Linked DNA regions of Homo sapiens. The protein of the gene in region 1 purifies or fractionates together with the protein of each later gene. This does not show direct contact. Each region holds a gene or a part of one and is shown on either strand. Other genes may lie near its edges. The genes, in order: FAM81B, PCNT and CDK5RAP2.

The links.
Region 2: the proteins of FAM81B (region 1) and PCNT purify together in Homo sapiens (affinity purification with mass spectrometry; 2 studies listed by BioGRID and IntAct, with this or other methods). This does not show direct contact.
Region 3: the proteins of FAM81B (region 1) and CDK5RAP2 purify together in Homo sapiens (affinity purification with mass spectrometry; 2 studies listed by BioGRID and IntAct, with this or other methods). This does not show direct contact.

Annotation. Positions count from the first base shown.
Region 1 is NC_000005.10:95,392,219-95,403,726, reverse strand, and holds part of FAM81B (protein FAM81B), read right to left. Parts: intron 10,934-11,508; coding exon 10,830-10,933; intron 7,617-10,829; coding exon 7,552-7,616; intron 1-7,551.
Region 2 is NC_000021.9:46,325,381-46,336,888, forward strand, and holds part of PCNT (pericentrin), read left to right. Parts: intron 1-907; coding exon of another isoform or gene 908-996; coding exon 997-1,209; intron 1,210-9,016; coding exon 9,017-9,388; intron 9,389-11,508. Other genes in the region: uncharacterized LOC128092249, read left to right, coding at 908-1,111. UniProt on the Homo sapiens protein: Integral component of the filamentous matrix of the centrosome involved in the initial establishment of organized microtubule arrays in both mitosis and meiosis. Plays a role, together with DISC1, in the microtubule network formation.
Region 3 is NC_000009.12:120,568,695-120,577,206, forward strand, and holds part of CDK5RAP2 (CDK5 regulatory subunit-associated protein 2), read right to left. Parts: intron 3,348-8,512; coding exon 3,280-3,347; intron 1-3,279. UniProt on the Homo sapiens protein: Potential regulator of CDK5 activity via its interaction with CDK5R1. Negative regulator of centriole disengagement (licensing) which maintains centriole engagement and cohesion. Involved in regulation of mitotic spindle orientation.

The DNA.
Region 1 (11,508 bases):
TTCGCTGAATGTTGTCCTGTCTGTGCATGATGCTTGGAACTACCAAAGGCATCTTGTGATCATGAGGAAAAAGGAAATGGCAGAGAGAAAGAATAAAAAAAACCACCTGGCTGCTTAATGATGTTCTGAAGCTACTAAATTTACCAAACTCTGGATTTTTTTTGTTATATGAGCTAATCAGTATTTCTACATTTAAACCATTTTTGGTTAGTGCTTCTATTATGTGCAGCTGAAAGCATTGTGTCTGTATCTAGTCACTTACCAATAAAAATGTCATTTCAAATAAAGATACATTAAGTACTTACTAAATATTTACTCTAGTTCATATACAATATTTACTCTAGTCCATACACACATTTACTCTAGTCCATACCTGTAATACTACATATTTACATATAATGGCTCTGTTCCTCAAGGAACTTAAGTTAATTCAGTATTTCTTATACTTGAATTGGTATCACAGGGGAGGGTGAGGGAGGGAAGCTGTTAAAATACAGATTACTCCACTCCAACACAAACCTACTGAATCAAAATTTTAGGGTAGGCGGGGAGAGTAAGAATATGCATTTTAAGCAAGCGCATAGGTGATTCTAATGTATCCTAAAGACTAAACACCACTGATTTGTTCAAGACTGGTCATGTGAATCAGCGAATAATATAAGGCAGGATATATAATGAAGTGCTAAAGTAGTGAACTATGGAATATGAGCTCTCAAGTTCTGTAGACATCCAGAAGCAGCTTGGCAGGTTGGAAAGCAAGGTAGACTGAGGGTAGAACACAGGCTCCACCACTTACCAACCGAGTGTTCTAATTGCTTCATCTGTAAACAGGGCCAACAAGGCCTATTTTGCTGTGTGGTTGTAAGTTCTGAGACAATAAGTGAGATGCATGCAGTAGAGAGGGTGGTGAAACCAATGCCACACACCTGTATGTCTGAGGTTAAGAGGGTCCCAGGGCCTCACTCTTGCGGGTGAGGTGCTATTGGCTAATGTCAAGATTATATCCAGAGAGAGCAATGCGAGGGCAGACCCAAGCCAGCAGGTCTGTGGTCTTGTCTGTCAGGGCTGATTTCAATGCTGTGGCTATTTGGCCCATCGAAGGAAGACTTTTAGGAGGGTATCACCTACTGCTATGCAAAGCTATTTGCCTGCAACCATGGAGACATTAAGTGGGATGCAAATGCTGGACTGTAGTTATTTCTTCTCCTAAATTTTTAAAGATTATTTTTAAAATTTATTTTATGTTTAAGTGGAGAGCTTTCCTTTTTGAAATTCCTTTTCAGGCCTGGGATTTACTATTAACTGTAGTCTTATTATTATTGCTAATTCTTAAGGTTTAATGAAGCACCAAATGATGGCTCTGTTTGGTTTTATTTACATGGTTCCTGAAGATCAACAGACAGCTTATATTTTTTCCCTATTTGCATTGCCACAAGGACAGAGAATATTGTTTTCCAATTGACCTTTCTAAATCAACCATGGAAGAACAAACACATGAGCATGTCTCAATTTTCTAAGAGAGATTCCTGACGAGGCCATTATTCAAATCATTAGGTATTCCTAAGGGATAAAAACTGAGGGCTTTCCCTAGTAGTAAGATGTAAATTTAAGAACCTCACTGCTTTCTTAGTATGTTATGTATGTCAGTGGGACCTAGATCTAAATTTAACTATGAAAGGAAAGAAATAACTGGATATTCCAGACTAGTGCAGATGGAGTCACCAACCACAGGAGGAAAAATTCCTAGGGGGCCTTTTCAGAGAGATATTTGGGCTTCACATAGATCATTGATTATGTAGCTGACAACTGAATCTGAACAGATTTTCCACAAACTCTGAGTTCTATTTTTCTGTAATTCGGTGTGACTTACACCAGCTGTGCTGTAGCTGGCAGATCAGCCGGTACATGGAGCCTCTCACTTCCCTGCCTGTTCTGTTCTTGTGAATAGAGCCCTAAATTTACTGGGGAGATTCTGGTAACCATTTTGGCAACCTGTAATACTCAGAGAATCAAACTTGAAAATTTAAACCTTTTTCTAGAACACAAAAAGGCATACCGAAGAAAGATTTCTACATTTTTATGAGATCTAATATATGACTAGTTACGGTCTGAGTGCAGAGAGTCCTACAAAAAAAAAACCTGAAGTGAAATCTCAGAGAATATTTTGATGCCTCACAAAAATAATCTATGAGTGTGTGTGGGGAGTGATGAAATAGAAAAAACATTTTCTATAGTTTCTGTGTTGCTTGTTTATAACCACCCTGGCAAGTGGATGTTTGTAGCTGGAGAGACTTCCACTGCTGAGTTTTAGGTAGGGCTGAATGCTCTGGGGGGTGAGGCAGGCAATTTGAGTTCTGGTGGGCCCAGTGCAGAAGGAAGTACACCAGGCCAACAGGGCTGGGCCAGCACAGAGCATCAGGAAGGGCCCAAAAAGAACTCCATATAGTGGCACGGTCCAGAAGAGACTGGAGAAAGAACTGGTTGTGATTCTTTTCCAGTGAAAAGTGATGCGCTCTATAAGGCAGACTCCTCATGTTCAGCAAAATTTTTAGTAAGATTGCAAAATGAGTGATGTGCCTGGTACGATTGGTTTTCCTTCATGTGGAGGCATCAAGGTTGACAAAGGTTCCAAACAGAGTCCCTGTATCAGTGAGGGCAGGGTGGATGTCTGGGTCATACTTACAGGTGAAGCATATGCAAACTGCAGTAGCAAATTGTTTTGATGATGTTGGGAGTTCCTGTAGCATTTGTGGCCCTCTTGAGATACCTTCCCATATTACTTTGGTCTTTGGGGGTGGGGGTGGGGAGTGTTTAATGTGAGTCTCCAGGGGAAAGAACGCTGTACTTGGAGTCAGAAGACTTGGGTTCAAGTTCTATCTCTGTCACAAGCTAACTTCAACCTCTCTGAGGTTGCCCGGAAGAGGGCTCCCTCTCTGTTCTGTGGAGAGAGGGACTCCTGACCCTCCCACCTGGCTGACGAGATCAAGTTAAAGGATGTGTACCTGAAATACTCTGCAATGTCTTGTAAATATGTCTTGTACAATGTTGTATATATGTGTTCTTACAATAATTTATAATTATTAAATATTGTTATGGGTTGAATTGTGTCCCCCCAAAAGAAACAGTGAAGTCTTAAAGCTTAATACCTCAGTATGTGACCTTATTTGGAAATTGGGTCTTGCAGATATAATTAGTTAAGGTGAGGTCCTACTGGAGTAGAGTGGGCCCCTAATCCAGCATGGCTGGTGTCGATGTGAAGATGCCTGTATGTATGTATGTGTGTGTGTGTGTGTATGTATGTATGTATGTATGTATGTATGTATGTGAAGGTGGCTGTAGGAAGACAGAAACACAGGGAGATACCATGTAAAGATGGAGGCAGAGATTGGACTGACACATCTACAAGCCAAGGAGTGCCAGGGACTCCCAAAAGTCACCAAAAGCTAGGCAGGAGACAAGGAACAGGTTCCCCTTGGAGCCCTCAGAAGGAACCAGTCCTGCTGGCACTTTGATTTCAGACCTCCAACCTCCAGAATTGTGAGGTAATACATTTCTATTGTTTAAAGCCACGCAGTTTGTGGTAGGGAGCTCCTAGCCCAGGAGAAATGTAAGGAATTTATTATAACACTATCTTATTTCTATTTAGTGCTTATAGTCAATGTATCATTTTCATTGCATTCCCACCACTACCCTGTGGCATGAGTAAAATTTGTCTCTACTTAGGAGGAAACTGAGGCATGGAGGCTATGAGTCACTCAGCAGCGAAACATTTTAGTTAGCCTCTCCTCTTTCTCCTACATCACAGCAGCTTTGCTTAGGCCAGTTAGTGGCTCTTCCTGTTACATTTGCACTTTTCTCAGAGGAGAAAGGTGTGTCTTTCCCTCTGCTTCTTCATATGTAACTTGCTGCCAACATCATGTAATTTTTCACCAAGTCACCTTTCCTGCCTGGCTCCCATCTCTCCTCGGAGTCCTAAGGGTCTTCTCAGAGGCCCAGAGGTTGGTGGGGGCTCCCTCTGTGCTCTAGAGAACTGAGATCAGCATCAGCCTGACCTCAGTGGAGTTCTCACGCTTGAGCAGAAGGTCTTAAATGTGACAAGAATCCAGACAGCCTCTTAGGAGGGACTGATCATCATTTGGGCAGCCCCTTCCCTTACTAATTGGGGGTCCCTATGGGTAATGCCCAATCCCTGTGACTGTGCCCACTCTCAGCAGAGCCTTGCCCATCACAGGTGGGTGGGGGGGGGCATGAAAAGAAGAAAGAGAAAGACCAAAAGACTGCACTGTGGCTGATAGTAGCACCATCCAACCTAACATGATCTATCCATAGAAAGTTCAACCAACAGAGTTTTGTCTTCCTTTCTCATGCATTGTAATGTGAAATATCTCTCTTCACCATGTAGTAACAAAAGCAATGCATCACGGAATAATAAAGTGTCTGCCATGGTGCTAAGAAAAACCTTGAAAATGAATACTTTCAGACCCTGAATTCCATATTCTACTCATGAGGGGAAGTCATTAATCATTTATTATTTTGCCCATTTGACTTGCTGAAAGTTTTATGTATCCAGATTTTAAATATCATTCTTTGGCTGTCAGCCAGACCCTCATCTTCACAAAATGTACTCTTGAGAGAATTCCTGAGTTATATATTGGCTATAGCCCAGCCTGGAAAACTCAGTAAAAATCCTCAGTTCCTTGGCCTCCTTTTTGTTCAGGAAAGTTGGAATTTGCCTCATGGGCAGCAGAAACTCAGGATTCATTTTCTCCAGAGACTTTCAAATAGAATCCCAGATGCTATCATAGTTCCAATTTGTATTTCCCTCCTTTTCACCCTAGCCATCCTTGCCCCCTTTCTGTTCCTGCTACACCGTAAGAATATTCCTGCCTTCGAAACTTTGCTCTTCCCCTAGATGTCCATATGGACAAATTCCTCACTTCCTGGTCTTTTCTCAAATGTCAGATTCTTAATGAGGCCTACCCCGGCCAGCTATCTAATAATTCATTTCTCTCCTTCCTGCTAGAATGGCTCCAAACGCATTATTAGATAGCTCCCTGAGGGACTGGATTTTTACTTTTTGAGTTGTTATTCTTTGCTCATAGTATTACCTGTAAATATACCCATATAGGTTTTAAGGCCAAACCTCTGAAAACCTGTAATATAAACTCAGGCCATTTAATGAGTTGATAATGACTTTTACTTAAGTACTCTGTTTGCATGTCAATCCATTTGTTGTCACCCAATGAAAACTATGAGTTGAAGGCTGAAGTTTTTTATTTATTTATTTATTTATTTATTTATTTATTTAGAGATTGAGTTTCACTCTGTGACCCAGGCAGGAGTGCAGTGGTACACTCTCCATTCACTGCAACCTCCACCTCCCGGGTTCAAGTGATTCTCCTGCCTCAGCCTCTCGAGTAGCTGGGATTACAGGTGCACGCCACCATGCCCGGCTAATTTTTGTATATTTAGTAGAGATGGGGTTTCACCATGTTGGCTAGGCTGGTCTTCAACTCCTGACATCAGGTGATCTGCCCACCTCTGCCTCCCAAAGTGCTGGGATTATAGATGTGAGCCACTGTGCCTGGCCAGTGAAGTTATTTTAAAAACCATTGTTCTTTATTTTTATTTTATTGGATTGAATATGTCAATTCAAAATGTCTGCACTTATTACTGAAATGCCCAAATGCCATTTTGCTTTTCCAGTTAATCAGCTGATTTAAGCAAAGCTATAACAATTCAATTGTTCTACCATTACTTTCCATTAAATCTGTCAACTACAGTTCATCAAGTGTATTCAGTACATCATGATAGGCTACTGGAGGGATATCAAAAATCATAAGGCCATAGAGTGCCTTCCTTTAGGGAGTTTGCAGCCTGTTCTGAGAGATGCGAAGAGAGAGACCAAAAGACAATTAACAATGTGAAATCATAAATAGAAAGTTCCAGATATATGGTTTAGATAGTAAGAGAAGGGGTAAGGGAGAGATTAAGGTAGAAATAAATGTTGGAGTGAAGTAATCTTTATCATGCTTTTGCTTTGCATTATAGACTATTTCTTCCTCTTTGTCTTCATTTTAATTTATCTGAAAGCCAAAGAAATCCAAAAAGTTTATCTTCTGCTGCTTAAGTTTGTTACCATTTTCCAGGAATTTATTTTCTCATCTCCTGGGATGTACATCACCAGCTTGAGCTAAAGAAATCCACACAGGTTTGTAATAGAATTTGACGGATCAGAAGAATGATTTTTATTTTCCATTTGTCATGTAGAGAGTCAGGTGGGGACAAGTTTCCCTTTTCTCCTTGGAAGATAAGGTTAGCTAATACATTTATTTATAATAATTATTTTTGTGCATACTACATTCATTGTCCTTAACTCAGAAGAAAAGTCATCTGTCCAAATATTGCATTTTTTAAACATTTAAAAATATTTTTCCCATGCTTAGTTTTATTTTTTTCTAAATCATAGACTCATAGTCATATAAACAAATACAAGTTATGTGGAACATGAAAAAAGGGGCTAACGCTAACATACTGTGATTGAACTATTTGGAATGTATTAAATTTAACTGGCCAAGGGACAGGGGAATTCTTGTGAAAAAAATGCAGTAAAAATTAGTGAAGAAATCTTATCATCTTAATTGTTAAAGATAATTTTTAAAAAATCGAAGTTCAAGGTGTATTTAGATTTTTCTCTTCACATGAACTCATTTCATTCATTTGGCTATTTTTTTCTTCTGTGGTCATGATTATTAAAATCAGAATTATTTTAAAGCTGCAGTAGTTTCTAGTCCAACCTCTTTGTTTTTCAAATGAAAAAACTAAAGCCCAGAGACATTATGGAACTGACTGGTGTTACACAGCAAAGTAGTAGAAGGACTGACACTAAATCCCCAGTGCCCTGAAAACATGAATGACAGCATTAGACCAAATCCTGCTTTGACATATGGAATAGAAAACAACTCAAATTAATATGCATTGCCTTTGCAATGCCACCTTCATCACTGGCATCCTTGGGTATTTTGGACAATGTGCATGTGTTAACAGTGTGTTACTCTATTTCCAAGTGCCTGGAGTTGTCCCTCTGTGGTACACCTTTCCTGGGGGAGCTCCAGGTATGGCACTGTAAATAGCAGAAACAACATCTTCTAGTGATTAGTGAAATATATCTCAAAATTTCCTGAGTTTTTATCATGAAATGTTAACAGCTTTACTTGGTTTATTTTGAAGTCAATAGTTAGCTATATCTGATATTGTTGCAATATGCAATATGTTGTATTGCTTTTCACATAAATCTACAGGAACCTATGGAGGTCATTTAAAGAAAAGGTAGTTAAATCTGCTTGTTCTGTCAATCAGAAAGGAACAGGATCAGGTTTGTCTTTCTGACATGATTTAATCTCTTCTGAATGCAGAGAACTTAAAGGTTTCATTCAGGTACATTCATCTCTGACTGAATAATTAAACACAGGATTTTTTCTTTTTTGCGTGTGAGATTTGTCACAATAAATGCAGTTAATAGTTAAAACTAGTTGTAATTTACACACTTACTTGTCAACATATTCAACTAGATCTGTAGAATTCTTGGTTGACATTTTGGCTGGAGATAATCTTACCTAAAACAAAGGTTACAGATTCAGAATATATCATCTGCTTCTTTACAGATTACTTCTATGCAGTTTATCTTTAAAGAGTTTTAATTTTAAACAAAATGTATACCATAGACCAGATAATCAGCTCAGTTAATCTTACACATGTCCCCTTTGTATTGCTAATGACTAAAAACAAAATTAAGTTCTGTGGAGATACTAGAGAGCTGTATTTCATAGATTTGGTATCACAGTCAAGAAAACCTTTTTGGAAAAGTCAAAGCCATAGATTATTCTTAGATAATTTTAAAATGAAATATCTAATGATTATTGACTGAGTTACTAAAGAAGTCTTCACAGAGTGGATGATTCCTGACATGCTGATTTCTAAGGAGAAACAGCTAATTTTCAAACACAAAGCCCCGAACTAGAAAACTAGCCTATCCAAGTACCTGGATGTCAGATTATTATAGCCAGAGCAGTCATACACATGATTTACCAACATTAAGTATAGCTGGCCATATGTACACTTAACTGGCAACTTCTAATTCAATAAAATGGTACTACTAGAAAGTTCTATTTTCATGAAAGTTGATAATTTGCAGCATTTTTATGACAGGAAAGAAGATACCCAATGTACTCACTGTTTTTCATATCTCAAAAATGCCTTAAATTCTTTTTTTTTTTTTTTTTTTGAGACGGGGTCTCGCTCTGTCGCCCAGGCTGGAGTGCAGTGGCGCAATCTCCACTCACTGCAAGCTCCGCCTCCCGGGTTCACACCAGTCTCCTGCCTCAGCCTCCTGCGTAGCTGGGACGACAGGCGCCCGCCACCACGCCTGGCTAAATTTTTTTTTGTATTTTTAGTAGAGATGGGGTTTTACCATGTTAGCCAGGATGGTCTCGATCTCCTGACCTTGTGATCCGCCTGCCTCAGCCTCCCGAAGTGCTGGGATTACAGGCGTGAGCCACAGCGCCCAGCCGAAAATGCCTTAAATTCTAATGTTCTTTTAAGTTTAAAAAAACAAGACAGATTTATCCTAATTTTAATAGCCTATTGGTGAACTGGATTCAATATGGAGAATATGAGTGGTATTCCACCTCAGTTAAAAACTTTAACAAAATATATTCCTAGGATATTTTTTCTTGCTTTATGTTACTGTGTACTATAATGGTGGGCAGAATATGTTAAGACTCACATACAGAAAGCATTCCTTTTTCAAATGCCCAAGGAATTACTACTTCTTAAGTTTTAAGAAACTTAATTGGATACCTCACTCCTTCAAAAAACCTTAAAAAAATGTGAAGTCCATTTTCAGGGATGCTGTAAAGAACGCCTGACAAAGTCTCTCCTGACCCAGCCCTGTTGGTGGTGGGCAGGCAGAAAAGGCTCGAGGCTGCTCACGAGGGAGCCTGTGAACCCCCAGGAGAGAGCTTGTACCCTCCCCGCATTGCTGAATGGGGTCTGCAATGGGTCTAATGCTGTTAAGCCACGTCTTCCCCTCGAGAATGGATCTACTGATTCACTGGGCACTCAGGTGGCCACGTTATGGAAACTTTCCTAAGTCAGAGGACCTGATGCCTTCTGCCGTGGAGAGTGTTTTCACTCCTGTTTCCCACTGAAACAGTACTGAGTCCTGAGACCTCACCTACTTCATTGCCAGTTCTTTCCTCCTCACCTTTCCACTGCTCCCTCTGGTCTGTGTGGGGATCTATTTTTGGCATTTCCTCAGCAACCGGTTGGTCCCTCCTTATATGTTTGGAGAGTAGTCCTCTCCAAGTATTTGTGGAATTAAAGTGTATGATGAATACAGTGTCCAAGGGCACTAACTTGTCCTCCTTTCTCCTTCTGAAGTGTAACAATTAGATCTATGTTTTATTTTTATTTTATTAATTTTTAAGTCTTACTTGAAAGACCACAAGTAGCATCTTCTTAAAAACACACCTACAACACACACTATTTAAGTGACAAATGTTAAGCATAACAATGGAGGAATATTTGGAAAAGTATAGAAAAGTTAAAGATACAGAATAAAAATTCTCGCTTGTAATTTTGCTACCTAGAACAAAAGCCACTGATGTTGGCTTTTGGTGCAATTTTTTAAATGTAATTTTTAGGTATCTAAGACAGTATTTAAATTTTTATATCTTTGCTAATTGAACATAAGAGTCAGTTCTGTTTTATCCTCATTCCTATAAGCTAGGATGTTATTATATATAAAAACTGTCTCACAAACAACTTGATGGCCACTATGGGAATTTTTTTACATATATCAGTTTTATCCATTTCATAATAATGCTTTGAATGTTATAGCTTTTTGGTTTTATGGGCTATGAAATACGTTCTTGTATATGACATAATTTTATTTGACATGAATGCCCTATAAAGTGGATATCATTACCTTCCCATTAGTGTAAGGATGACATTAGTTACCTTAAGAAGCTGAAACCCTTATTATGGAAAGAAATTAAGATGACTATTTTTTATAGGTGAGGAGCTTCAGGATCAGAGAAGTACGGGACTTGCCCAAGATCATGTAGATGATGATGATAATCATACTGTAGCCCTTCCTACTTGCTAAGCACTTACTTAAGTGACTCATTCAAACCCACAATAACTTTGTATGATAAGCCTAATTCACCCATTTTACAGAAGAAGAAACAGAGGTTAAGTAATCATTCCAAAGTCCCACAGCTAGTATGTGGTACAGCCTATTATATAATACATACCAAAAATCAATGTTTGATATTGTGCTAGTGCTTTATGTAACAAGTGACTGCATCTGCCTCTTGTTATGTAAATTACAAGGTGTTAAGAGAAGTGCAAAAAAAGTCTAAAAACACTGCTTTAAAAAATGTTCTTTTTAACGGAGAAGATACGACAAGTTCTAATAAAGGAAACATTCTATTTAGCTATACCGGTTTTCATGTTAGAGATAAAGATAAAGTCTGCACCTTGAGTTTATCATGGTTCCTTTTGAATCATCATAAAACATACATAATGATCAACTTAAAAGAATTTTAGCCCCATATATTAAAAATCAGTCTAATTAATGAAATTGTAAATTGAGGTCATTTTTCTTTTCAGCTTGTGTTTTCAGCAGCCATTTTGCCAAGACAGAACAAACAGGAAATGTGGGAGAACTATTCTTCCAGAACTTCTTAAACTCTCTAAGCACTCTAAACTTTAAAGAAGCTGAGCAAAGTATTCTACTTTTAATGTGAATATTGAAAAGTACTTGCTTTCTTTTCTTGGTTATTGTCTGAGCCAGGAAGGGGGCCATCAGGTTCAACTGGCTGTTCCTCTGCAGTCGCAGTTGGAGAGGCACTTTTGTTTACATTTGTATCTAGGTAACCAGAATGCTGAATCAGGTCAGGAACTATGACAAGTGAATTTTTGCAGTGCTGCTAATTTTTTTTTAATTGAGGGCAGTTTCTGTACATATAGCTTGGCTTAAAGGGAGGCTTTCAATTTGCTTTACATTTCCCCTCTCCTCACTTATCCCAATTCTCCCCCATCCCCCCATAACATCTATAGTTAGCTAGAAGAGCATTTCTTTACAGATACTTCTATAAGACCTTTAGAAACTTTTTTAGGATCAGACAGCTCTAAAATAATCAGGAATGTATTTTTTTTAAATTATACTTTAAGTCCTGGGATACACGTGCAGAACATGCAGGTTTGTTACGTAGGTATACACGTGCCATGGTGGTTTGCTGCACCCATCAGCCCATCATCTACATTAGGTATTTCTCCTAATACTATTCCTCCTCTAGCCCCCAACCCCCAACAGGCCCCAGTGTGTGATGTTCCCCTCCCTGTGTCCATGTGTTCTCATTGTTCAACTCCCACTTGTGAGTGAGAACATGTGGTGTTTGGTTTTCCGTTCCTGTGTTAGTTTGCTGAGAATGATGGTTTCCA
Region 2 (11,508 bases), on another chromosome or scaffold:
AGGAGGGTGGAGGGGGGAGGGAGGGACAAGACGCCGCCTGTAGGGCGACGCAGGCCGCAGACCAGGTCTGTGCTATATCCCGACATGGATAGGTGTGGTGGAGGAGGACATGAAAATAAACGACATGAGGTTGACTTTGAAGGAAATATTTCCTTGAGAGACCATTTTCTTGTGTAAATGGCCTTGTGTAATTTTTCTGGGTCCATGAGCTTGTGTACTTGTGTTATCATTTACACAAATGTGTGTTCCATGCGTTTGTTTTTGTGGCCACAGTTGTCTTTTGAGGGAACAGATGTCTCCCCGTGAAAGGCTGATGTGGGATCGATCGCATACCTCTTGAGTAAGACGTTAGCGGGAGATGAGGCTCGCACATAGTCTCAAACTCTCGGATTTGAGGACTGAGCAGAGCTAGGCTGTGCCTTCTGATGGGCGATGCTCTGTGGATGTCCCTGGTGCTTTGGTGAGCTGTGTCATGAAAAATAGAACATCTGATTCCATAAAGGAAGATGTGAGATTGACCTGGCTTAATTAATTTTTTGCTATTTCTGTATCTTGTCTCAGAATCTATGGCTAGGAAGTTTTGGCTGGGCTATATATTTCTTCAGTTGGGGGAAAATTGGGGCAAGAAGGGAGAGATTTAGCTTTTATATCATTTTAAAACTTAAATATGCCTTGATTAAGCTATCAATCTTTTATACAAATTTTTTTTAAAGTTTTATTTTTCTGTAAACTGCCAAGGGCTAGGAAAGCTATTCTGCCAATCAGCCGTATGGTTTTCTTTACCAGGCATAATTAGCAGTCCTCATTGTTAGACCCCTTGGATATAGATATTGATGAAGGCAGTGTTTGTGGAGAGCCATCTGTTGGCCAGGTGTGGCAGAGTAGACTGGGTCAGCCCTCGGGCCTCATGGTCCCCACCAGTCTGTTGACTTTGTGGTTCTGTTATTTTTTTCTCACTTACCTTTGCCTTTACTACTTATCTACATTTTTGCGCAGCTTGCTCACTTCCGACAGAGAAAAACAAAAGGTGACAGTTCGCATTCGGAGAAAAAGACGGCGAAGAGGAAGGGCTCGGCTGTCGATGCGTCTGTCCAGGAGGAGAGTCCGGTAACCAAGGAGGACAGCGCACTCTGTGGAGGAGGGGACATTTGCAAAAGCACATCATGTGACGACACCCCTGATGGGGCAGGAGGGGCCTTTGCAGCTCAGGTAGATTTGCTCAATGTTGTATTTGAACATTTCGCTTATCTTCTAGTGATTTCTAGTGTGATTTACTAAAGATGGTCTTTGGTCTGTTTTTGCCTTTCAAAAGTGAGGAAAGAGGGTGTTATTTTAGTTTATAAAAAGTGAGGGCCGGGTGCAGTGGCTTACGCCTGTAATCCCCGCACTTTGGGAGGCCGAGGCAGGCGGATCACCTGAGGTCAGGAGTTCCAGACCAGCCTGGCCAACATGGAGAAACCCTGTCTATACTAAAAATACAAAAATTAGCCGGACATCTGGCGCACACCTGTAATCCCAGCTACTCGGGAGGTTGAGGGAGGAGAATAGCTTCAACTTGTGAGGCAGAGGTTGCATTGAGCCGAGATCACGCCAATGCACTCCAGACTGGGTGACAGAGCGAGACTCTCTCTCAAAAAAAAAAAAACAGTGAGTAAATTTTTATGGTTTTATTCTTTTTATTTTATTTTTTATTTTTTTGAGATGGATTCTCGCTCTGTCTCCCAGGCTGGAGTGCAGTGGCGCGATCTCGGCTCACTGCAAGCTCCGCCTCCCGGGTTCATGCCATTCTCCTGCCTCAGCCTCCCAAGTAGCTGGGACTACAGGCGCCCGCCACCACGCCCGGCTAGTTTTTGTATTTTTAATAGAGGTGGGGTTTCACTGTGTTAGCCAGGATGGTCTCAATCTCCTGACCTCGTGATCTGCCCGCCTCGGCCTCCCAAAGTGCTGGGATTATAGGCATGAGCCACCGTGCCCGGCCTATGGTTTTATTCTTAATAAATTTGGGTTTTCTTTTTCTTTTTTTTTCTTTTGTTTGTTCCAGACAGTGTTTTGCTGTGTTGCCCAGCCTGGAGTGCAGTGGTGTGATCACAGGTCACTGCAGCCTCAAACCCCTGGGCTCAAGTGATCCTCCCTCCTCAGCCTCTTAAAGTGTTGGGATTATAGGCATGAGCCACTGCGCCTGGCCCTGTTTTATCTTTATTATGTAATTTTGAGAAGTTTTGGATTAACTACTTGAAGACAAGTGTCAGTTGTTTGCTTTGTAATGGAAGACTGGGAGTTCTTCGTGTGTGGTCGTGTCAGCCCCTTTGATGGGTGTTTCTTGGGACATTTAAAACATAATATTCCTTCACATAGTTGTAAATGCACCTGCTTGTCACATTTGTCTTTTACCTTTTTACTAAACGTGAGATGAAGAGGGAAGGGGTGAAGGTGTTGCAGACATGGTGTGTTGCTGGAGGAGACTGGGTCTGCTGCTTGAGGCCTTGTGAGCTGCAGGGGCACCCCCATGGGCAGGTGTGGCAGGTGAGTGCACACTGAGTCCTGAAGGGGCTGGCCTTCCGGGCTCCTTGGGGGCCTACAAACCTGCCTGGAGGCGGGCTGTCCTTGGGCCTTTTGTATGAATTATGAACGAGGGCCTTAGGTGTTGAGTGTCCCTGCTGCTGCAGCAGAATGGGTGCAGGCTTTGATGTTTGCTAGGATTTGCTGGAAAACTGGTGGCCAAAGGCAGAATCTGGCTCAAGGTCATAATGTATGTATCCTGCTTTACTTAAAAAATTGAGTTGTTGGCAACAGTTAAAATTTGTGTTATTCTACCTACAAATCCTGAATTTTGCTTTTTATCTCTTGAGTGTTTTTGGTTGTTGGGTTGGTGTGTTTTTTTTTTTTTTCCCGTTTTCTTTTTAAGATACAGTCTCTCTGTTGCCCAGGCTGGAGCGCAGTGACGCGAACTCTGCTCAGTGCAACCTCTGCCTCCCAGGCTGAAGCGATCTTCCTGCCTCAGGCTCCCAAAGTGCCAGGATTACAGGATTTCTGCCACCTTGCTGGGCAGAAAGTTACTTTTGATATATTCTGGTTGCATATGTTTTTTGGTTTTTTTTGAAATGGAGTCTCACTCTTTTGCCCAGGCTGGAGTGCAGTGGTGCAGTCCTGGCTCACTGTAACCTCTGCCTCCTGGGTTCAAGCGATTTTCCTGCGTCAGCCTCCCGTGTAGCTGGGATTGCAGGCGCCTGCCACCAAACCCAGCTAATTTTTGTATTTTTAGTAGAGACAGGGTTTCACCATGTTGGTCAGGCTGGTCTTCAACTCCTGACCTCAAGCAATCCACCCACCTTGGCCTCCCAAAGTGCTGGGATTACAGGCGTGAGCCACTGCACCCGGCCCTCTGGTTGCACATACTTTTTTTTTTTCTTTAAGGCGAAGTCTCACTCTGTCATCCAGGCTGGAGTGCAGCGGCACGCCCTCTGCTTCCTGCAACCTCTGCCTCCCGATTTCAAGCGTTTCTCCTGCATCAGCCTCCCGAGTAGCTGGGATTACAAGTGGGCACCACCATGGCCGGCTAATTTTTGTATTTGTTTGGTTGAGATGGGGTTTCACCACATTGGCCAGGCTGGTCTCGAACTCCTGACCTCGTGATCCACCTGCCTCGGCCTCCCAAAGTGTGGGGATTACAGGCGTGAGCCACTGTGCCTGGCCTGCATAGACGTTTTAAAAGTAGTAAGCTGATAAATATATGTGGGAATCTCAGGATCCTATCAGAAAACCATTCCAAACTTAGCACATTTTGTGGTAAATTGTATTTGGAGACTGATGGGTCGTTAACATTAGAAGGCATGGTATAGACTCCTGATTAAACACTCATACTTTGCTGTTTCATCAGGTAGAGACTCTCTTAGTTTCTAACTCTGCTATTTGATGCATGCCTTCATTCAGGAAGATGATCTGATGAAAAGCATTTTGATTTTTGTTTTCAAAACCAGAAGGGCATATACCAGAAAATTAACAGTGGTGGTCAGAAAGGAATAGAGTTGTTGGTTTTTTCGTTGTTATGGTTTTTGGTATTTCCTACAATAAACACATTAGGTTACTTATATAACATTTTTTTTCATTTTAGAATTAACTATACCACTAATAAAACATGTATTTTGGACATCTTAAAGCAATCTATAAATAACAGGCCCATTACTGGTCCCCTTGACTTAGAGATGCACACGCACACTCACTGCACTTGCTGCATTTTGTGTCACCTCCTCGTGACCACAGTGGACAGGACACTTCACCCTCAAGCGTGGGGTGGTGTGGCAGATGTGAGGAGAGGTCTGCTTTCACAAAACTTGGTGAAACAATGGCAAGATGGCCAAGGTAAAGCATTCTGTTACTTATAACTGTTGCTGTGAGTAGTAACTTAACTGTTTAAAGCAGTATTTTAAAAACCAAAAGCTGGTAAAATGTAAGGATACTTTCTCTAGGAAAAGTATGTGCTCCTGCAGCCAGGATTCTTCATGGAATGAAGGCATGGCAGGGCCTGACTGATTTTCATCTCACATCGTCATCCTGAACTCCTCTGCACAGTTACAGCTTGACATCAGCAGAGACATACCTCCTCTTCCTGTCCATTGGCTCTAAAATGGTGGGCAAAGGTCAGGTACCAGTCAGCTTTTTCCACAGAATTCCTGACATTTTAATAAGCTAAACATGCAGTCATCAGGTATTAACCCCTATTGGATCTTGGACATCAGCTTTTTCCCCCTTTTTTTTGAGATAGGGTCTTGTTTTCTTGACCAGGCTGGAGTGCAGTGGCGCAATCATGGCTCATTCCAGCCTTGACCTCCTGGCCTCAAGTGACCCTCCTGCCTCAGCCTCCCTAGTACCTGGGACTACAGGCATGTGCCACCATACCTGGCTAACTTAAAAAAAAATTTGTAGAGACAGTGTTACACTGTGTTGTCAGGGCTGGTCTCAAACTCCTGTGCTCAAGTAATTCTCCCACCTCGGCCTCCCAAAGTGCTGGAATTATAGGTGTGAGCCATCCCACCTGGCTAAAATTTATTTTCTTTATACATGTATAGGTAAACTAAGTAGTATGTGTAGAATAGAGCCATTGTCTTTCTGCTGTACACTAAGTTAGGAATCAAATTTCTTAAGCCATTTTGTCAATTATGTATATAAAAACCATTGGTGCTTTAGAAGCAGATATTTCATTAACTTTTTTCTGATTATATCATTGTACATCATCAGTTCAGTCTAAAAAGGAGTTTTTTTCATATGTATTATAAAATATTTCATGATATTTGAGTTTAGTATGCCTTTAATCCAGTTGTAGATGTTAAAATAGGAGTAATTTTGTGTTCAAAATAATGATCTTCTGAAAAGTGAAATTCTAGGAAAGAGTCCACTGTTTAAAGCTAGCAGCTGGTGGCCGTGTGGCCGAATAATGTCCCAGGCCAGGGCACTCCCCTCTCAGATGGTTGGTCATGCTGCGTCGGAGATCAGGAATCCTCAAGGAACCTTTATGTTATAGTTGTACCAGTGCTTTAAACATAATGAAAGGTGCATTTGTTTTATTTTACCCATCTATAAATTGTGAGAGGTTTGGCTATGGAGAGTCTAGTGAGCTTATTGAACAGCATAAGAAGATAAGTGTGTGTGTTTGTGTGTGTGTGAGAGTGTGTGTATGTGTGTGTGAGGGGGAGGGAGAAGTTATTGTGCTTTCCAACATATAATAAATTGCTTACTTTGATCACTAACTGTTAGGTAAATACTGATGATTTCTAGCATAAGTCTTTTTTCTTTTTTTTGGAGACAGGTCCTCCCTCTGGCGCCCAGGCTGGAGTGCAGTGGCCCAATCAGCTTACTTCAGCCTTGACCTCCCTGACTCAGGTGATCCTCCCACCTCGGCCTCCCAAAGTGCTGGGATTACAGGCATAAGCCGCTGTGCCCAGCTGATATAAGACATATTTTTAACCAACTTTAAGATCTTAGTTTTTTTTCAGGATGGTTATAAGCGAAGGTAGAATTGCAGAAAGACTTTGTGGTAAATATTCAGGATTCGGCTCTGTTGCCTTACAATTTGTTAAGTGCATGATGGAAAAATAGTTGAAACAATGCAACAGCTGTCTCAGTTCTGAAAGTTAACTCAGAAATGGCAGAAAGCAAGGTCAGGCATGGTGGCTCCGAGCACTTTGGGAGGCCAACGTGGGAGGATGGTTGAAACTCTGTCTCTATGAAAAATATAAAAATTAGCTGGGCATGACAGTGCACACGTGTAGTCCCAGTTACTCAGGAGGCTGAGTTGGGAGGATCACCTGCGCCCAGGAGTTTGAGGCTACAGTGAGCTATGGTGGCACCACTGCACGCCAGCCTGGGCGGCAGAGCAAGGCCTTGTCTCAAAAAAAAAAAAATCATAAAAATAAAGCAATGGTAGAAAGCAGAATTTGACCTTTCAGTTACAGATGAGGAACAAAGTGAGGAGAGGCCATTTTTTGGTAAAAGAACCATCTGGCGGGACGCATTGGCTCATGCCTGTAATCCCAGCACTTTGGGAGGCCAAGGCAGGAAGATCACCTGAGGTCAGGAGTTCGAGACCAGCCTGGCCAACGTGGTGAAACCCCATCTCTACTAAAAATACAAAAATTAGCCGGGTCTCATGGCAGGCGCCTGTAATCCCAGGTACTCGGGAGGCTGAGGCAGGAGAATCACTTGAACCCGGGAGGCAGAGGTTGCACTGAGCCGAGATCGCGCCATTGCACTCCAGCCTGGAGGACAAGAGCGAGACTTTATCTCCAAAAAAAAGAGAACCATCCAAAAATTGCTCAGAGGTCAAGAATTTCAGAAGAAAATACAAAAACTTTGGCTGAAGAAGATTTAACTAGTGCTATAGAAGGCTTAAGAAGTGTGGTTCTAGCACTTTTCCAACTCATATTTGTATCAAATACCAGGAAAAATAGTTATCACCATTTATCATCTAGATTTCTGGGCCGTTTTACTGTTTTGTCATTTTAAGTTGTTTTACACGTAATTTACAGAAGTAAGAATAAAGCAATAATTTAAAACAACTTTATAAGAAATTTGATCCAACCTCTTTGTATCAAGTAAGTTTTGACACACAAACATTAGAAGTGTCCTCTTAAGGAAGTGGATGGTCCAGGTTCCTTTGAAGTGTGATCATTCATGTGAGCGGGCAGCTGATTGAGACTACTGTGTCCCCTTTTCGTCCCTCACTTCCTCTTGATTCTGAGAAGATTGATCTAGGGTATTGTCAAATGAAGACTTGTCTGAGATTTTATTTTCACGTCAGTTTTGCCATCATCATTGGCCATGGGTGCTCTCTCTCTGCATTCATCTTGTGACTCATCTAATGATCCCGAAAAGTCGACACTGTCATGTTTCTTTGCTATTTTGGGAAGAAATTGAAATGTTCTTAGTGAATCATCTTGTTAAAGCAAGCTAATCTGGGCACTGTGGCTCATGCCTGTATTGCCAGCATTTTGGGATGCTGAGGTGGGAGGATTGCTTGAGCCCAGGATTTTGAGGCCAGCTTTGGAACATAATGAACAGAGACCCTGTCTCTACAAAAAAATAAAAAATAAGCTGGGCACAGTGGCGCATGCCAGTAGTTCCAGCTACTCAGGTGGCTGAGGCAGGAGGATCACTTGAGCCCAGGAGGTTAAGGTTGCAGTGAGCTGGGATTGCACCACTGCACGCCAGCCTGGGTGACAGAGCAAGACCTTGTCTCAAAAAATTAATTAAATTTCTTTTTTAAAGTAGAATTCATGGCCGGGCGCAGTGACTCACACCTGTAATCCCAGCACTTTGGGAGGCCGAGTTGGGCAGATCACAAGGTCAAGAGATTGAGACCATCCTGGTCAACATGGTGAAACCCCGATTCTACTAAAAATACAAAAATTAGCTGGGCATGGTGGCACGCGCCTGTAGTCCCAGCTACTCAGGAGGCTGAGGCAGGAGAATGGCGTGAACCCGGGAGGCAGAGCTTACAGTGAGCTGAGATTGTGCCACTGCACTCCAGCCTGGGTGACAGAGTGAGACTTCGTCTCAAAAAAGACAAAAAAGAAAAAAAAAATTAGCCGGGCGTGGTGGCATGCGCCTGTAGTCCCAGCTACTCGGGAGGCTGAGGCAGGAGAATTGTTTGAACCCGGAGGCGGAGGTTGCAGTGAGCCGAGGTCATGCCACCAGCCTGGGCGACGGAGTGAAACTTTGTCTCAAAAAAAAAAAAAAATTACAGGCTGGGCACGGTTACTCACACCTGTAATCCCAGCACTTGGGGAGGCCGAGGCGGGTGGATCACCTGAGGTCAGGAGTTCAAGACCAGTCTGGCCAACATGGTGAAACCCCCGGGAGGTTGAGACAGGAGAATCACTTGAACCCAGGAGGTGGAGGTTTCAGTGAGCCGAGTTCGTGCAACTGCATTGCAGCCTGGCAACAGAGCAAGACTCCGTCTCAAAAAAAAAAAAAAAAGTAGAATTCATTAAGAAGAGGGGCAGGAACATCATTAGGGAAATTACTTGCATTATAAAAATGTTTAGAGCTGGCCAGGTGTGGTGGCTCATGCCTGTAATCCCAGCACTTTGGGAGGCCAAGGCGGGCGGATCACGAGGTCAGGAGATCAAGACCATCTTGGCTAACATGGTGAAACCCTGTCTCTACTAAAAATACAAAAATTAGCTGGGCGTGGTGGCGGGCACCCATAGTCCCAGCTACTAGGGAGGCTGAGGCAGGGGAATGGCGTGAACCCAGGAGGCGGAGATTGCAGTGAGCTGAGATTGTGCCACTGCACTCCAGCCTGGGCGACAGAGCAAGACTCCGTCTCAAAAAAAAAAAAAAAAATGTTTAGAGCTTGGGAATTGTTAATGCGGAAGGTGCACGTTCTGAACAGGTGGAAGTGAGCTCTACTTGTTAAATGAAGTCAGCACAGGCCTGCAGATAGAGGAGCTGGGAAGGGCCTGAGGCTGCAGCCCTAGACCTTGCTTTAAATGCTTCTTTCTGGTCCTCCCCTTCTTAGCCGGAGGACTGTGATGGAGAGAAGAGAGAGGACTTGGAACAGCTGCAGCAGAAGCAAGTCAATGACCATCCTCCAGAGCAGTGTGGGATGTTCACAGTCAGTGACCACCCACCAGAACAGCATGGGATGTTCACAGTCGGTGACCACCCACCAGAACAGCGTGGGATGTTCACAGTCAGTGACCACCCACCAGAACAGCATGGGATGTTCACAGTCAGTGACCACCCACCAGAACAGCGTGGGATGTTCACAATCAGTGACCACCAACCGGAACAGCGTGGGATGTTCACAGTCAGTGACCACACACCAGAACAGCGTGGGATCTTCACAATCAGTGACCACCCAGCAGAACAGCGTGGGATGTTCACAAAGGTATTCTTTAAGTTCTCTGTTAAGGTGTATTCTTTGTCAAAAGATTTCTTTATGTTGTAGAAATCCAAACCAGTGAGAGGACCTTCCATCTCTGCAGGGCCTCTCTTTAGAAGTGGAAACTGGAAGCATAGAGAGCTGGAGGCAGAGGCTCACCCTGTAGGCCCCACGTGCTGCCGCCTGCACGTTCTTAGTGTTGCCTGTGAATGGGAAGCCTCTCTTCATACCCTTCTCCCTGAGCTCAAATCTGCCTCCCTTGTGATCTTCCTTTTTTGTTTTTCCCATGGGACATTGAAGAGAAGCCACCCTTCATAAGTTTGAGGAATGTCATGAATTCCCTTTATTCTAGTTGCCCTTGTCGATTGACTCACCTGTCTGTTCAGCCTGTTTCTTAGGCCTGGTACCTCGTTTCTCACATCATCAGTTTGTGACTGGAAGTCCTGTGCCAGTTGAGAGCCTGGCAGGGCAGGGAGGCTGTGGTCAGTCTGCATGTCCCTGGTTTCTGCCACGTTCCTGGTGGGATGAATTCCATACGTGTTGAGTTGATTACCTTTATTTTATTGACATGTTTTTTGTTAGCATGTGGAGGAAAACATTAAGTTTGGAATTGACTACTTTTGAAGTGTTATGTTAAAAGCATATATTTTAGGCTGGGCACGGTGGCTCACGCCTGTAATCCCAGCACTTTGGGAGGCCGAGGTGGGCGGATCACGAGGTCAGGAATTTTAGACCAGCCTGGCCAATATGGTGAAACCCCTCTCTACTAAAAATACAAAATTAGCTGGGTGCCACTGCACTTCAGCCTGGGAGACAGACCGAGATTCCATCTCACAAAAAAAAAAGCCTCTATTTTAGCCATTTGATTCTAGCTAGACTCAGTTCACACTGCTTTAGGCAAGTTTGGTTGTTTTTTGGTTTTTGGGGTTTTTTTTTTTTTTTTAAATAGAGACGGAGTCTTGCTCTATTGCCCAGGCTGGTGGTGCGATCTTGGCTTACTGTAACCTCCGCCTCCTGGGTTCAAGCGATTCTCCTGCCTCAGCCTCCCAAGTAGCTGTGATTATAAGCACCCACCACCATGCCTGGCTAATTATTGTATTTTTAGTAGAGACAGGGTTTCCTCATGTTGGTCAGGCTGGTGCTGACCTCAAGTGATCTGCTCGTCTCAGCCTCCTGAAGTGTTGGGATTACAGGCGTAAGCCACTGCACTTGGCCGGCAAATTGTTTGTTTTTTGAGATGGAGTTTTGCTCTTGCCCAGGCTGGAGTGCAGTGGCGCGATCTCGGCTCACTGCAACCTCCGCCTCCCAGGTTCAAGTGGTTCTTCTGCCTCAGCCTCCCAAGTAGCTGGGATTACAGGAGCATGCCACCACGCCTGGCTAATTTTTATATTTTTAGTAGAGAAGGGGTTTCATCATATTGGTCAGACTGGTCTCGAACTCCTGACCTCAGGTGATCCTCCTGCCTTGGCCTCCCCAAGTGCTGGGATTACAGGCGTGAGCCACTATGCAGGCCAAGTTTAGTTTTTAATCTGCATTATTGCAGGAAAGATCTAACTCCTAGGTGAGGCCTGGAAGCACAGTCTCTGGTGGGTTCTATAAAACCCACTCTTCATTTATTTATTGACTTCTTGGGACCGGGTCTCATTCTGTCCCCTGGGCTGGAGTATGGTGGTGCCATCACAGCTTAGTGTAGCCTCAACATTTTGATTCTTAAGTTGTTGCAGCTCTGTCCGTGGGGAGCCCCTTCAGGTGGCTCCTGTGTCATGTGTTTGAAGCACATCCTGGCTTGTGACACTGCAAGTTGGTGCCGCAGGCTCATCGTGTAGGCCCTGTCTCCGTTCTGAGTCCGCTGTTTCTCCAAGGAGTCTTGGTGCCTTTTACTAGATTATGGTGTTGAGACCAAGACCTGGGCTCTAGGTGTGCTCACTCCTGCTGGGATGTTGCTGCTGCTTCTGGGCTCTCTCCGTGGACAGAGTGAGGAAGGGTGTGCCTGGGAGCTAGTCTGTGTGTACACTCATAGCTGTATTTATGTTCATTTGTATTTATAGACATATATGTTAAATAGGAATACATACTGATACCTCAGAGCCTAATCCAGCACCACAGAGTTCATTCTGCCCTCCCCC
Region 3 (8,512 bases), on another chromosome or scaffold:
ACTGAACAGAGTGTCATCTTCTCACGTCAGTAATTACAACAAAGCACATCTAACTGACTTGACAGCAGGGGTTGGCAAACTTTTTCTTAAAACGCCAGACAATATTTTAGGCTTTGTGGGCCATACACAAAGCCTAAAATCTGTCACAACTACTCAAATCCTCTGTTGTCACACAAAAACAGCCACAAACAATCCATAAACAAAGTGGTTGTGTTCCAATAAAAGTTTATTTTCAAAAGCAAGCAGTGGACCGGAAACTGCTGACCTGTTTTAAAGACTATGGCAATACCCAAATCTCTCCGCAGCATCTTTAACTGAACAAACATGTATTACACACCTACTCGGTGCCAAGCCCCATCCTGCATGCTGAGGAAACAATGGTGAAGGAGACACTAATCCTGCATCCAAGAGGTTCCCTATCGAGTGAGCAGGATGGAGATCTAAACTAACTGTTATCAGGCTGAATAAAGCCCGTGGCACTTTGTAGGTGTTCAGTAAATGTGTGCTGAGTGAATAAGTTCATTCTTTCAAAATATATGCACTGAGAATCCACTTTCTGCTAGGCCCCTTTCTAGATGTGGAAACATCAGGAAACAAACAAATGCAGCCGATAGTCTAGAGGGAGGAAACACAATAAACAAAACAAAAGGACAACTGCATAATATGTTAAAAGGTGATAAATGCTATGGAGAAAAATAAAGTAGATAAGGATAGGAAATAGGAGGCATGGGGTGAGGACTGCCATTTTAGGTAAGGTGGTTAAGGAAGGTCTCAATGAGAAGGTGACATCTGGGCAGACTTGAAGAGAAAGGACCAGTTACCTGGGGGAGAATTCTCCACATTCAGGGAGAAGCCTGAGGTGGAAGCACGGTCCCCTGTGGGTCTGGGGAACAGTCAAGAGGCCAATAGGCTGGAGCTCAATAAACAAAGGGGGATAGCAGGACTGGAGGTGAGAGAGGTAAACAGGGACAGACTGTATACGGTTTTTAGGCTCTTCTAAGGACTCTGAGGAGCTGCTGGAAGGTTTGCAGCTAAGGAGTAAGATGATTCGACTTAGGTTTCTACAGGCTCCCTCTGGCTGCCTTTCTGAGAACAGACTGTAAGGGGCTTAGGAGAGAAACAGGGAAACCAGTTAGGAGAATATTGGGATAATCTAGGCCGCAGATCATGGTGGGTTGGAGTAGGATGGAAGGAGTATAGGTGGGTGAGAACTAGTCTGATTCCGATACTTTAAAAGTAGCCAACAGGAATAAATGAAATGAGATGAGATGAAGTGAAATACACAATGTTGAGAGAGGAAAGTACACCTTAGTCAGCCTGGGGAGAGCCAAAAAGGGTGGTGAGCTTTGAGCTGAGTCTTAAAGAGGGAGCAAGGAGGCACCGGGCAGATGAGAAACAAAAGGAAGGAGAGACAGCCCAGGCAAAAGCACAGAGGTGGGAGTGGGCATGGTGTTCGGAAACCACTTAGCAGAAAAGAGGCTAAGGAGTGGGCAGGGCAGACTGTGAAGGGCACGCTAGTTTGTTTTCCTGTTCCTCAAACGGGCCATGCCCTCACCTGTGTCTGGGATGCTCATCCCCTCCTTTTTCCTTACCTACATCTGACTTATTCAGGTCTCCGCTCCAATATCAATTTCTTGGGAAACTCTAGCCTGACCCACCTCCACACCAGAGGAAATCTCCCTTTAATCCCCTCTCACAGCACTTGATACATCTTTGCTCCTGACACTGACCATACAAATTCTCATAAGGGTTTGTCTGTCTTCTCAGCTTAACAGTAACCACATTTGAGGTTGAATTTTAGCACTGAGCCCAGAGTCTGGCATGAAGCAAATGTATACTATCGGCTAAATTAAGAAATAGGCTGGCCAGGCACAGTGGCTCATGCCTGTAAACCCAGCACTTTGGGAGGCTGCGGCGGGTGGATCACCTGAGGTCAGAAGTTCGAGACCAGCCTGGCCAACATGGTGAACTCTGTCTCTACTAAAAATACAAAAATTAGCTGGGTGTGGTGGCACGTGCCTGTAATCCCAGCTACTCGGGAGGCTGAGGCAGAAGAATTGCTTGAACCCACGAGGCGGAGGTTGCAGTGAGCCGAGATCACACCACTGCACTCCAGCCTGGGCAACAGAGCGAGACTCCATCTCAAATCAGACTTGTTGGATTTTGCATTTAAAGTAAAAGTTGCCAATGAGTGCAGTGGCTCATGCCTGTAATCCCAGCACTTCGGGAAGCTGAGGCAGGTGGATCACTTGAGTCCAGGAATTCGAGACCAGACTGGGCAACATGGCAAAACCGTCCTGCAAAAAATACAAAAATTAGCCAGGTGTCGTGGCACACGCCTGTAGTCCCAGATACTAGGGAGACTGAGATGGAGAATTGCTTGAGTCCAAGAGGTCAAGGCTGCAGTGTGCGTGATCGCACCTCTGCACTCCCAGCCTGGGTGACAGGACAAGACCATGTCTCAAAAAAATAAAAAGTAAAAATAAAGTAAAAGTTAATAGGTTCCTCAGGAAAACATGAAGGTGCCCTGTAAGTTAAGGGATTTTCCAGAAATAAACCGTGGGACTCTTTTCCTGTCTGCTCCAAAATCTCCCTCCTCTTGCACATATCTCAGCACTGTGGAGAAGAGAAAAAAAAGAACAAGTCAAAATATCTTAGAGATATTTTGCAAAAACTAGCACTACCCACAGAGACGCTTAAGCATTCACTTTTTTCAGAAATAAAAATTATGAAGAATGCTTAGCTAGACCCAAACTGCAAAGTCTCCTCATAATCCAGCTTAAACACAGTACGCTACTTATTTACTCAGAGCCGTCTCCTGTGGTCTAACCAGCTATTTGTCTCCAAAGGGCAGGCCCGTGTAGGAATGCGGGGCCTCAGCCGGCAAACAGGATCCAGCAGCCTGCCAGGAAGGCCTTGGCACGCTACAGTCCAGATGGCAGCTCTCCTGGGCCTCCAGCCACTGGCCTAGCTGCCAATTCAATGTCCAGCCTCCGTGCAGTTGTTCAGTTCAGCAAACGCTCACTGAATCCCTATAGCTTTAGTAGCAACAAATGAAACTCATGAAGTATGGCCAAAAGGACAACAATTCCTCTAGTCCAGTGTTTATGAAAGGAGGTGGAAAGCAAATCAATACATACAAAAAATACTGAGCACCTACGGTGTGCCAGTTCAGGGAAGCCTCTGGGCCCCAGAGATATGAAAGCTCAAGATGCTCACAGTCCAATGTCTACTTTCCTTGTTCTTTACTCAAGAGAATGCCTGGTTTTGTGTACTTACGACCATTTCCCAACCCAGCATTGGGGTTGATGCCATCCAGGTCATCTGGTACACTGGGAACAAGGCCACTAGGAGAGAACACATGAGATAAGAGATGAGCTAATGTTTGAACAACAGAGACTGTTAAGACGGTCTGGACTGCACATGACAATCATCCCATGGCCAGGAGGGATGCACACAGCTGGGCTACCTATGTGGCATGAAGCACAGAGGTTAAGAACTCAGGCTTTGGGGCTGAGTTCCAGCTCCAACACTTGATAGCTGAGTGACCTTCAGTAACATCATTCATTCAGTCATACATCAAATGTTCTGTGTGCCAAATATGTGCTAGTGGCAGAGGCACTGTGACAAGTACAAGATACTTATGTTTCTGAGTCTCACCCTCTTAATCTGGTACATGAGGATACCATGCCCTCCCTGTAAAAATTAAATTCGTTCATGTATATAAACACAAAGCACATAGTAAGTATTCAGTAAACGGCAACTATTGTTGTTGTTACTATTATCATTATGACTACTAATATGCCTATCACCACCTCTGGGAATCAGACACCAATTTAGATGTTTTAAGAATGTCAAACAATGCAAAATTCACTGATCCAAGAAGTTGTCTTGGTTGAATTACATAAATAAATTCAGTGAGGATCTGGAGACACTGACAGAAAACTAACCCATAATAGGAGGTGTGGTGTGACACAAAAGACACTACCCTGATCTATTCTAAGCTCTGCCATGTATCTCTCTGAGCCTCACTTTCTTTAGCTGTAAAATGAGTACAGCAGCTACCTCACAGAGTAACTGGCAATTAAACAAGATATTGCAAGGTACCTTGTGGGTACTCCACAAATGGGAGCAAAATATCATGTCGCCTTGAAACCTACAGTGCTTTACAATTTATAAAAGATTTACCATCATTAGAATTGCCTAATTCCCTGAGGGTGCACACATTTTTCAAAGGAAGGCCCCAAGGCCCAGACAATTTTACTGTCCTAGCCAGGGTCACATGGCGGTTCTGTGGAGAGCCAGGTCCAGAAGCCAGGTCTTTTATGTCCAACTCCCACGAATACTTCCCTATCCCACACTGTAAAGTAGGAGTTGATGGAAACAGCTTGACTTCTTGGCAATTTGCTCTTTCCATGCCTCTAAATCCAAATTCATTGTGCTCCTAGGATAATTTTGCCTGACCACCAAACTTTGGAGTTGGAATGTACCTTCAAGATCAAAAACAGGCAAAAAATTGGAAATATCATAAAATTCCAACATTAAGAAAATGATCACAAAAAAATGTGTCCGGGCTGGGTGCAGTGACTCATGCCTATAATCCCAGTATTTTGGGAGGCCAAGGCTGGTGCATCACTTGAGATCAGGAGTTCGAGACCAGCCTGGCCAACATGGTAAAACCCCATCTCTAATAAAAATACAAAAATTAGCCGGGCATTGTGGCAGGTGCCTGTAGTCCTAGCTACTTGAGAGGCTGAGGCAGGAGAATCACTTGAACCCAGGAGGCAGAGGTTGAAGTGAGCTGAGATCATGCCACTGCACTCAAGCCTGGGTGATAGAGTGAGACTCCATCTCAAAAAAAAAAAAAATTTAAAAAAAAAAGTGTCCCCTGTAAAGGTAAATGAAAAAACGTAAACAGAATATGTCCTCAATTATGAAAACAAATATATACAGTACATAAATACTGAAGTCACCTCAAGTCCATTTTGGAAATAGGTGGGCTACAGATATATAACAAGACAAAGGAAATATACTGAAATATTAAAAATCATCATTAGTAGGGAAATGAGAGGTTTTCTTCCTTTTTAATGTTATATAATTCTCAATTTCCTCCAATAAACATCACTAAAAGGACAAAGTCAATTTTCTAAACTGAATTTTAAAAACTAAAATCAAGTTCAACCATCACCTTTTGCAGATGGTGGTCCAGAAGCCCAAGGTCACATACACCAGGTTATTGGCCAAGCTCAGCCTAAGGTCTGGTCCTGCATTCTCAATCTGGGGTTCTCTCCGGGTACCAGAGCCATTACATTAACTCCCACTGGCTAAAACTGCCCATGAATAACTCAAGCCAAGATCAATCACAGCTGAAAAGTACCTAGCAAACAAAGCCAAAGATTCTGGTCTTAGACAAGCTTCCTACAGGCAAACACTGAAGTTTGAAAAATGACATCTGACATCCCAACTCTTAGACAAAACCACTATGTAATGCAGAAATTTTTGCTTGGATCCTGCCAAATTTCCACTCGGGCTTTACCTACCCACTTTTAAAATGCTATGAATCTGTCATCTGCACCCTCCAGTCAGTTCCAACTACACCTCCAGCCACAAGCAGCTCCCTCTTTCCATTCTAATCATTCACTTGTAGCCTTATAATTAAGGCTGGGGCCTCAGGGATACTCACGAGAAATGACAATGTAAGCAAAACAAAAGGGCTCAGATATGATCTTATTCCACAGATGAGAAGACTGAAACCCAGAAATGGGTTAGGAACTTATTTACTCAAAATCACAAAAGTTAGTGGCAAAGCCAAGCCCAAAATCCAGGATCCCAGTGTCTTTTCCACTTGCTAGCCTGTGTGTGGACTGCCCAAAGCTCCTATATAAATGTGACACATGGTGGAGTACCAGTTTCCTCACGTGCAAAATAAAGCACAATCTAAGAAACCTGCCCTTGTATGGGGCACCCATGCTGCACAAGCACCACACTCAGCACAGGACAGGCAGCCTTCCCTTTCATCCTCACCACAGGATTAAAGTCCATTTTCTAAACTGAATGTTTGAAACTAAAATCAGGTTTAATCCTCACTATAGTCTTTCTGCGGCTGGTGGTACTTTTTAATGTTGCCTTTTTTTTTTTTTTTTTTAATGAGGAAACAAAGACCAAAAAGTTAATAGGCTGGAAACTCCAAGCCAGCCTGACTTTAAACCCCCTGCTGTGAACCTACACCACCCTGGTACCCCTGACGCCTTCCCGGAGGTTGGGGGTGGCAGGGGTGTGGTGGTGGTTAAGGGCCGAATGGACTGAGGCATAAAATTTCCATCACTCAGCACAGGGCACAGCCATCATAACGACTGTTTTGTTTTGTTTTGGTTTTTTGGAGACTCTCACTCTATCGCCCAGGCTGGAGTGCAGTGGCGTGATCTCAGCTCATTGCAACCTCCACCTTCCATATTCAAGCGATTCTCGTGCCTCAGCCTCCCAAGTAGCTAGGATTACAGGCATGCACCACCACGCCCGGCTAATTTTTTGTACTTTTAGTAGAGATGGAGATTCACCACGTTGGCCAGGCTGGTCTTGAACTCCTGAGCTCAGGTGACCTGACCGCCTCAGCCTCCCAAAGTGCTAGGATTACAGGCGTGAGCCACCGCGCCCAGCTGTAGCAACTGTTTGTGGATAATTTTTGAGTGACTGAATGGACCTTCACCTGAGCTCCACCACCTCATCCTCCTATCTTGCTCTATTGCTACCGAAAAGGACTGACCTCTTTCTATGCCTACATATGCCAGCAACAATTGTCCACTCAAACCATAAGACCCAAGGGGTCTTATGTCTCCTTGACAAATTGTTTCATGAGAGTCATGGATGAGACCAGATATCACATTCTGACAACGATTACACAAACAAACTCACTTTTGTCTTTTAACAACCCCTTTTTCATTCTATTTTATTCTTAATTAGAGAAAAATACATAAATTTAAAAAAATACAGATAAGCCTAAAGTTCTCCTTGGCTCCTCCTCGCTCCCATCTAGAACCCGCCTAGGAGGTAATCACTGTTTTCAAAAAGACCTATAACTTCCAGAACTTTTTATGTGTTTTTACATAGATAGTTTCAATTTTGCTGCTTAAAAACACATGCAATCAAACAGTATACATCATGCTACAACATCCTTCTTCTACTTAATATGCCCTCATGATGTTTTCATGACAGTACAAATAGATATGCCTCAAAGTTTTCAACTCCTACAAAGCTTTCTACAGCAGTGTTCTTCAAACCTTACTGACCATGAGCCACAGAAGAAATATTATTACCCTTCATCCTTGAAATGTTTTCTATTCTGTTCTATTTTTCTAAATCCTGGTTGCAACCTACTAAATTGAATTTCATGAGCTACCAACGGGCCACAGTCTGAAAGATACTTTTGAAAGGATGTGTATTTACCCAATCCCCTACTGATGATAATTCAATTTGTTTCCAAGTTTTTCTTTTACATGCAATGTCATATGAATGTCCTTATAAGGTCCCATATGCACAAGTATGAGGATTTCTCTAGAATAGATGACAAGAAGTGGAATTGCTGGGTCAAAATATATTCACGTTTTTTAAATGGACGATGGATTTGAATACACATTTCTCCAAAGAAAGTGAACAAATGGCTAAAAGGCACATGGAAAGATGCTCAACACATCAGTAGCCATTAACATGTAATCAATACCACAATGAGGGCCAGGCGGGGTGGCTCACTCCTGTAACCCAGCACTTTGGGAGGCCAAGGCGGGCAGATCACCTGAGGTCAAGAGTTCGACACCAGCCTGGCCAACATGGTGAAACCCCGTCTCTACTAAAAATATAAAAATTAGCCGAGCATGGTGGCACGTGCCTGTAGTCCCAGCTACTTGGGAGGCTGAGGCACCAGAACCGCTTGAACCCACGAGGCAGAGGTTGCGGTGAGCCGAAATTGCGCCACTGCACTCCAGCCTGGGCAAGGGAGTGAGACTCTGTCTCAACGACAAAAAAAAAAAGACCACAATGAGATACCTACCATGTCACACCCAAAGGATGGCTATAATCAAAAGGACAATAAAAATATCAGTGAAGGGCAGGCACAGTGGCTTGTGTCTGTAATCCCAGCTCTTAGCAAGGCAGAAGCAGGAGGATCACTTGAGCCCAGGAATTTAAGACCAGCATGGGTAACAGAGCAAGACTGTCTCTAAAAAAAATTAAAAACAAAAGCCTTAAAAAGGAAAGAAATTCTGACACATACTACAACACGCATGAACCTTGAGGACATAATGCTAAGTTAAATAAACCAGTCACAGAAGGACAAATAGTGTATGATTCTACTTATACGCGACACTTAGAGTAGTCAAAATCATAGAGACAGGCTGGGCGCAATGGCACATACCTATAATCCCAGCACTCTGGGAGGCCGAGGCAGGCACAACACTTGAGGCCAGGAGTTCAAGACCAGCCTGGTCAACCTGGTGAAACCCCGTCTCTACCAAAAATA